Linked DNA regions of Homo sapiens: region 2 is linked to region 1. The links come from fine-mapping of genetic effects on plasma protein levels. A gene starts in region 1. The other region holds a variant in brackets. All regions are shown on one strand. Distances are between the middles of the regions.

Region 1 (5,505 bases):
CCTGGCGACCCCACCGTCACCTGGGAAGCCTGAAAAGTCTGTGTCCAGGTCCCTCTCCAACCAAAGCAAGCAGGGATTCTTGGGTGGGAAGTCTAATAGATAGCCAGGTTGAAAACCCCTGTTCCTACTTAAGGACGGAAAACAATAATTAAAAAAATATTTAAAAAGAGGCAGTGGCTCATGCCTGTAATCCAAGCACTTTGGGAGGCGGAGGTGGGAGGATCACTTGAGCCCAGGAATTCAGACCAGCCTGGACAACACAGCGAGACCCTGTCTCAATTTAAAAAAAATAAAAAAGGTAAAAAAATAAAAATAAAAAAGGAAAATAAAAGAAAAGGAAACCTCTGTTCCAAACCATCTTCAGTTCTGAAATCAGGAAAAAAAAAAAAAAAAATCCCTGATACTATTTCTGGGGGATGGGGAAGAATTATCCCTGGGTTAATTTCTCATGCTCACTTTTGAAACAGCCTGGGAGCTGTGCGGCTTGTCCCCTCCTCCTGCTCCCCCACCCCCGCAACAGGGTTCCTTCCTTGGAGCCGCTGAACTTGCATAAGTGACACCCTCCTCCTTGAGGGAGAAGCCAGGCTCCCCCAGGACAGCCAGGTGAGTGGCAGTGAGCATGTGACTGAGCGCTCCACTCCCTGTGTTGGCTCCCCGACCTCTGCAGACTTCAGTAGCACTTCTGTGCAAAACCCCACACGAGCTCATCAGTTCACACACCCCTTATTTGGACCTAGCAAGTCCAGCCACCTGGGACAGAGCTGAGATTGATCTCTGCAAAGTGTGAGGCCAGCTGGGCGTTTAGCGGTGTCACTGAGGACACAAGGAGAGAGCTGATTCTGCCTAGGGCATGCCTGCTTTAAGGACTCAGCCCCAAGCCTTCCCCTCCCCAAATGTTGCCTGCTAGCTCACTCCTAACCCCCTTGCCCCTTGACCTGGGGCAGAGAGCTGGCTGATACTAACCCCCGGGGACTGCCTTAGCCTGCCGGAGCCTCAGCTTCCTTGTTTGTCAAGTGATGATAATAATTTCTAATTCTCAAGGTTCCTTGATGATGAACTGCCACCCTATAGGTGGTGGCCCCATCTGGGAAGAAGGGTGGCTGGGTGTTTGGGGGCTACACCTGGGGAGGAGGCTGAGACGGACCCGGGGCTGCTGCTTTCAGGCCCTGGCTCGTTGCCCCTGCTGGGGCCCGCCTGTGGGTACCCATGTCCCTTGGCCTCATCCAGGTCCAGCAGCGGACCCTGCACAGGAAGCTGTTCAATCTCACGGAAACAGCTGCAGCTCCTGCCCAGGCCCTTGACTCCACCCCGTGGCCCTCCCGCCCCCCACTCAGCGTTTGGTTCTCATGGCAAGGAGGACTCCCGAGGAAACCAGACTCCACCCAGACCCCCCTACCAAATGCCCTCCTTTTTCCCATGCCCGGGAGCCTCTTCTGTCCTCCCCCGTTGGCCGCGGCATAGCAGCCCCACAGGGCACACCCTCAAACCCCATAACCAACTGTGCCTGGGTTGGGGCACATAGCAGATGGCCCAGCAGTGCCCCAGGATCCACTCCAGCCTCTGTCTCAGCCACACTGCCTCTGCCAGGAGACAGACACCTTCTCCAGCCCGCCTTTCCATGCTTGCGTGCCACATCGCACACACATTCACACACACAGATGTACACACTCCATAACACACACAGTGACAGTCCACACCAGTGTCACACCTGGATGCCAGATCGCCCATGTCTACATGTGTACATGTCTACATGTCTGTCAGGTGGCAGACTTTTGCACACACTAAGGAGCAGCTTCATATACCTCCTCCAAACATACGCATACACCTGCCTAAGGATGAACCTGTGAGCAGACATATGTACCCCTCCAGAAATCCCTTTCCCTGTTCAGTGACACAGCCGGGCATCTGAACACATGCACACCTGTGCATGCACACATACACACACGAGCACACAGCACGCTCATTCCTGTGTGCATGCACACACACACACACACACAAATGCATACCAGGAGTCCCTGCCTGCCTCAGCAGGGAGAACACAGCAGCAGCTTCCCAACCTGCAAACCCATCCTCAGCGGAGCCCTGACCTTCCTGACGGGGGGATCCCGGCTTCCCAGGGGTCAAGGAACCTGCTGAGGTCACACAGCTCACTGCGGTTGAGCTGGTATCAAGCCCAGGTTCCCTGTCCCCAGGGCTGGTGTGCACCCCAGCTGTGTCCACAGGTGTGCAGACTGTGGTGTCTCCAGACCCAGGGGTTCCCGCTGGGCCCTCCCCCAGGATGCTCTGATCCCCCTACAGGGCGGGCACCCGGGCACCTGAGCAGGGGCCCCCTCAGCCCTCGCAGGGCAGCAAAGCCTGGATGCTGGGCTGGGACTATTCTGAGTCGAGGGTGTCTCTTTGACAGGTTCCTCCTGGGCACGGGGCTGGCTCCTGGGAGGGGCAGTTCCGAGGACCCAGTGGCTGAGGGGCTCCCACCTGGGACCCCTTGCAGTTCCCAGGGACGAAGGTCTCCCCCTTGAGCGTCTAGTCACCTGGCCCAAAGGGCCCGCAGCTGTGGGCAGCGCTGGGGACAGGGGCGAGGGGTCCTTACCTCCAGGCCGAGAGGGGTGGAGGATGGACAGCAGGAGCAGGAGGACTCCGGGCCGCGGGGCCGCCGCCGTCAGACCCGCCATCTCGGGGAGAAATGCCCCAGCCCGCTCTCCGCACCTCGTTTTATCCCCAAAGCCTAATTGTTGCCTCGTCGGCTGTGAGGGAAAGAGGGAGGGAGAGAGGGCGGGCGGGAGGGCGGGAGAGGGGGGAGGCCTGGGGGAGGGGGCCGCGGGGAGGGGACAATTACGAAAGGCCCGGCTCACAAGCCTCCCAGGCCCGGGCTGCTGGACTGCGAGCTTTTTTCCTTGACACACACACGCACACACATGCACACAAGCACACACTCACACACACACACTTTCCCCCATCTCTTTCCCGCTTTCCCTCTGCGACTGTTCTTTCGCTGCTGGCCCTGTTCCCGCCAGAAAGAGCGAGGGGGGCCTCTGCCAGGACAGCCCTCGGGAGAGGAAGCAGAAGGGAGGGCCTGGCGGCCAGGCCAAAAATCCCAGCCCCAGCCAAGGCCCGAGTGGCCAGGCCCCCGCCCCTCCGGCTGGGCCCCGGGCCCAGTGTGAGGATACGGGCCAGCTGTCCCGCGCCTCAGCCCCCACCCCGGCCCTCCAGACTCCCCAACACCCCCAGGTCTGGCTAGAGACAGGTTCTGCCCAAAGCTGGGGAGGGGAGGCATTGGGCAGGTCTGGGGGTTTGGGGGGTGCGATGTCTACAGAGGCCGGGGGGCTGCAGGTTGAATGGCCTGGAAGGTAGGCCCGGGTTGGTATTGCTCTGGGAGGGATCTGGGGGGAAGGTAGGGGACCCTGGACAGGGCTGCATTCTGCAGGGGCCAAGGTCTCTGCCTAGCGCCTGAAGCTGGGGAGGAGGTGTTGGGTGGGTCTGGGGTGGATGCCTGCAGATGCCAGGGGGTTAGAGGCAGGGGAATGGCTTGGGAGTTAAGGCCATGTTGGTGCTGTCCCCAGGGGCATCTGGAGCACATGGAGGATCCCGACACACAGGGTTCTATTCTGCATGGGTCAAGGTCACAGCCCTATACCCAGCCCCATGCAGGCCGCAGGGTCTGGTAAAAATCAGGCTGGATCCCCAGGTGCCCTGTGGGGGAACAGGGAGGTGGGAGCCCCCCGCAGACTGACAGGCAGCCCAGCTTCCCATTATCACTGGGTCACCTCCCATCCCCACGCTGAGCACAGCTAGCGCCCACACCAGTCTGGGAGCTTCTCGACTGCTGTTCTCCCGGCCCCTCTGGGAAGGCTGACATTCCGCTGGTGGCCAGGAGGGGGCGGCCTGCACTGAAACAGCTGGGACCACGTTCCTGGAGAACTCTGCATTTCTGCCCCCAGGACTGAGCTGGACGGGGACCCTGGGGGATTTTGGGGGTTGGAGTGTGGGATGGAACAGGGGAGGGTCGTGTCCCCCACCCCTCACTTCCCACTACTGCTAGAGGAGAAGAAATGTGAGACCTAGAGAATAGGAGAGGGAAACTTGTTCCTTGTCCTAGGTCACAGCCAGTCAGGGAACAGCATGGAAGCCACACGCCCTGTGGGCTTTTCCCTGCACCACGATGGCTCCGAGGGATGAGTTAAAGACCCCTTGTGGAGGCAGGAGCACTGTGGCAGTCTGGAGTGCCAGCAGGGGTGGCTCAGCGTGGAAAGGTCAAATGCAGGCATTGGTCAAAGGCAGGTATTGGTGGACCTAGAAGTAAATTTCTGGCTCTAGCCTTTCTGGTAGGAAAACCTCTCCACAGAGCATCAGTTTCCTTATCTGTCTACAGGTGATCAGTATTCCTAGCTAAGAGATTATTGCAAAGACAAATACAACGTGGTCTTGTATTTCTGCTAGATCAAAAATGCTCTGTGTTCAGCTGGTGCTAGGACTGGTGTCAATACCACAGTTGCCGTCACTCGCTCTGCAAGTACTCTGCTTCTAGGACAGCTATCAGGCTTTGGTCTATACGGGGCCACCCCAGGACCCTGGACAAACCCTTCCTTTTCCCTGGGTCTTTGGAGGGAGCAGCTCTGGAATTTTGGAAGGTAGGGGCATGCTGGGAGAATTGTCTTGAAGATGTACGCACACAGCCAGTGTACAGCTCTTACTTACGGTGTGTGTTTATTTGGGGGTGCTTTGAGGGTAGCTGATGGAGATTATGCTGGGGTGAAAGCCCCCCCAAGCCACCCTTTGTTGGTGGGGTTAGGGGCTGCTCAGGGGCAGGGTCTGAAGCTCGATGCCCAGGATGTGCCTGCTGCAGGGGAGGGGAAGTCAATGGTATATCTGCGTGCCTCCGCCTGCCTGGGAAGGAGGAAGGCAGGGGCTACTGTGGGGAGCTGGACCCCTCTCTTCTCGAGGCAGTGACACGGGCAGGAACCAGCTTTCAGACTTGCAAACCGCAGTCTGCACAGAGTCTTTATTAATTCCAGGACGGGGAGAGAGTCCGGAGCCAGGGGGAGAGAGTTTGCAGTGGGGGGATCCAGGAGGGGTGTGGAGGGGCACTCACAGGAATAGACTTGAGGTGGCTGGAACAGACCTCTCCCCTGAGGCCGGGGGCCCTGTGTCCTGCCCCCAGCCTGTGCGCTGCTTCTGCTTAGCAGCCTCTGCTCATTGCAGGAGCTCCACGAACATAACATGCAACAAGATTGCAAAAGGGGGCCTCAATTCACAATCAAATCCATTGCACTGAATATCCATGCCGTGTAGTCTGATGCATAAGATACATAATGTAAGAACTAGAGATGACAGTCATCGGCCACCATCCATTCATTCATTCATTTACTTGTTCATTCAAGACCCCATCAGTACTCAAATGCTTAGTGTCACCTCCTTGCCTAGCTGTATGACTAAATAAGGTCATACATGCAGAATTGCCCACAGAGGGCTACCGGGTGCACCTGGCTGCCTGGTGATCGTTGGTCT
Region 2 (2,707 bases), 33 kb before region 1:
TCACTGCAGCCTCCAACTCCTGGGCTCATGCGATCCTCCTGCCTTAGCCTCCCGAAGGTGTGAACCACTGTGCCTGGCCTTAAAAGTTCTTTTGTAAGCCGGGTGCGGTGGCTCACACCTGTAATCCCAGCACTTTGGGAGGCTGAGGCTAGTGGATCACCTGAGGTCAGGAGTTTGAGACCAGCCTGGCCAACACGGTGAAACCCTGTTTCTACGAAAAATACAAAAATTAGCCAGGCGTGGTGGCGGGCGCCTGTAATCCCAGCTACTTGGAAGGCTGAGGCAGGAGAATCACTTGAACCCGGGAGATGGAGGCTGCAGGGAGCCAAGATCGTACCACTGCATTCCAGCCTGGGCGACAGAGCAAGACTCTGTCAAAACAAACAAACAAACAAACAAACAACGGTAATAGTATCTACAGCAGGCACTTAACATTTTGAGTGCTTCACACTTAGCAGCCCATTTTTTATGCATTGCAGCAGGAAAGGTAGGCACTATTGTCATTCCCATTTTGCAGATGAGAACGCTGAGGCAGAGCAGAGGTTAAGCAGTGTGCTCAGGGCTTCAGGGACGGGAAGTGGCTGGGGAGCCTGCGCCCTTCGCGGCTCCACCACATGACGTCACTCTGTTTCCCTGGCAATGTCTGTTGACTCAGGCCTGCCAAGCAGTCAGCAGTGAGCAGGGGAGGAGGCCAGGGCTGCTGGGGGTCGGCGCTGAGGAAGCCAGGATTTTCCGAGGTAGAAACTGGCCCCAAGTGGACCTGCCCGGCTGGTTGGTGGATCCCTGGGGGAGTCTTCCACCTCCCACCAACGCTGCTCACAGGAGGCCAGGAATTCAGGGGCTACAGACAGCGTGGGTCTGGCCAGGCAGGGCTGCCAGAGCGCCAAGTGCAGAGGCTGTGGGACTGCCACGTCCTCTGGGCTGGCTCGTGGTGGGAGCGGTCCTGCTGGCAGGACAGGAAGGCGGGCGGGGGCCCGGGGTGCCCAGATGAGGAATACCAGCTCCTTTGCTCGGGCCAGAGAGCTGGGGTGGAGGCAGAGACTGCCCAGACTCCTCATACCCACAGCAGGCCCAGTCCCTTCCTGGACACAGGGACCATGTAACTGTCAGGGTCAGGGCAAGCTTAGGGATGGTGGAATTGCCTCCTGGGGGGCAACTGGGATTTCAAGGGTGTTTTTGGTGGTCACAGGGGTTGAAGGCACCATAAGCATTTAGTGGGCAGGGGCCAGGTTTTTAAACTGTCATAAACGTGTCCTAGAAACTGCCTTTTTCTTTTTCTTTTCTTTTCTTTTTTTGAGATACAGTCTCGCTCTGTCGTCCAGGCCGGAGTGCAGTGGCGTGATCTCGGCTCACTGCAACCTCCATCTCCTGGGTTCAAGCGATTCTCCTGCCTCAGCCTCCCGAGTAGCTGGGATTACAGGTGCCCGCCACCACACCTGGCTAATTTTTGTGTTTTTAGTAGAGATGGGGTTTCACCATATTGGTCAGGCTGGTCTGGAACCCCCGACCTCAGTTGATCTGCCCACCTCGGCCTCCCAAAGTGCTGGGATTACAGGTGCCCGCCACCACGCCTGGCTAATTTTTGAATTTTTAGTAGAGATGGGGTTTAACCATATTGTTCAGGCTGGTCTGGAACTCCTGACCTCAGGTGATCTGCCTGCCTCGGCCTCCCAAAGTGCTGGGATTACAGGTGTGAGCCACCACGCCCGGCCGAAACTGCCTTTTTCTATTGTGACCACCCCAGTCCTGTGCTGTCAGGGATGGTGTGGTGGCAAGGGAGCCACAAGTGGTTGTGGGGTGCACTCACCATATTTGGCTGCTTTAGCGGCAGCCAGGGCTCCAGGTACTGGGGAGAAAGAAAAGTTGGGGAGTGGTCAGGAGCCGAGCTCTGTGCCTGGGAGTTCTGCCGCCTCCTCTAGAGAGCCCTCCCTGACTTCCTTGGCCTCTATTGCTTCCTCAAAGCCCTGAAGCTGTACAGGCACAGAGCTTTAGGGCTGAACAGTGCCTCCACCTTCCGTCTGCCCCTTCCTTCTCTCCCCAGGCCTAGCATGGACTGCCTGAGGCTGGGCACAGAGTGGGGCTCAGTCACCAGCTGGTGAAGAACTGGAGTTCCTAGTGGTCCCCTGGCCACAGAGCACTGCTGAAGGGGAGCCAGGCTGATCTACCTGCTCCTTCCCTGGTTGGAGGGCAGGCTTTTTCTCAGTCTGGAGCCCTGCCACCCCTCTACTGAGGAGGCAGATACTCTGCAATTGGGCAGCCTGGGGTCCCTTGGCCTGGTCTGCCCTCCTCCCGCTATCTGTTACCCCCAGATGCTTAGGAGAACCTAACAAGGATTTTACTATGCACCCCTGGGTGATGAGGGGGTGCTGGGGAGGTGCTGAGAGGAGGAGGGATCTCCTTCCCTGAGCTCAGGGGACAGGCTCCGCCTAACTCCCTCATCTGCACCTGCCC[C/G]GAAGCCAGGAACACCAGCACCAACTCCAAGTCCAGGAACACCAGCACCAACTCCAAGTCCAGGGACGCCGACACCAACTCCAAGTCCAGGGATGCCAGCACCAAGCCCAGCTGCAGCTCCTGCAGACAGAGGGCAGTGGTGGCGACAGCAGGCAGGGAGCATGCCCCTAAGGAGGTGTCCTGCCCAGGGAGCTGAGCCTAGTCCCAGAGGAAGGGGCCCAGATCCAAGCAGCGGCCTCCTCCCTGGCTGTTGCCC

Direction of the effects. Alleles are on the strand shown, and positions count from the first base shown. The strength of an association depends on the size of the effect and on how common the allele is.
For the plasma level of the protein whose gene starts at base 2,687 in region 1, G is the high allele of the variant in region 2 and C is the other (moderate association).

What was found. PIP is the posterior inclusion probability: the model's chance that the variant is causal. Protein levels are from antibody-based Olink assays in UK Biobank. Linkage for the fine-mapping came from a reference panel and not from the study's own genotypes, which makes the PIPs less certain.
Region 2: its variant is fine-mapped to the plasma level of the ELN protein (UK Biobank, PIP above 0.99). The variant lies in the coding sequence of ELN. If it changes the protein, the assay may bind it differently, which can mimic a change of level.

Annotation. Positions count from the first base shown.
Region 1 is chr7:74,025,355-74,030,859 of GRCh38, reverse strand. ELN (elastin) reads right to left here and starts at 2,687. Exons shown (of 33, transcript NM_000501.4): 1 at 2,591-2,687. The coding sequence starts at 2,672. RefSeq lists enhancers at 1,360-2,331, 3,304-4,276.
Region 2 is chr7:74,060,240-74,062,946 of GRCh38, reverse strand. ELN (elastin) reads right to left here. Exons shown (of 33, transcript NM_000501.4): 25 at 2,446-2,571; 26 at 1,808-1,846. ELN-AS1 (ELN antisense RNA 1) reads left to right here and starts at 667. Exons shown (of 2, transcript NR_183555.1): 1 at 667-737. RefSeq lists a silencer at 499-691 and enhancers at 494-788, 332-832, 833-1,333. The variant C/G (reference allele first, on the strand shown) is at 2,452.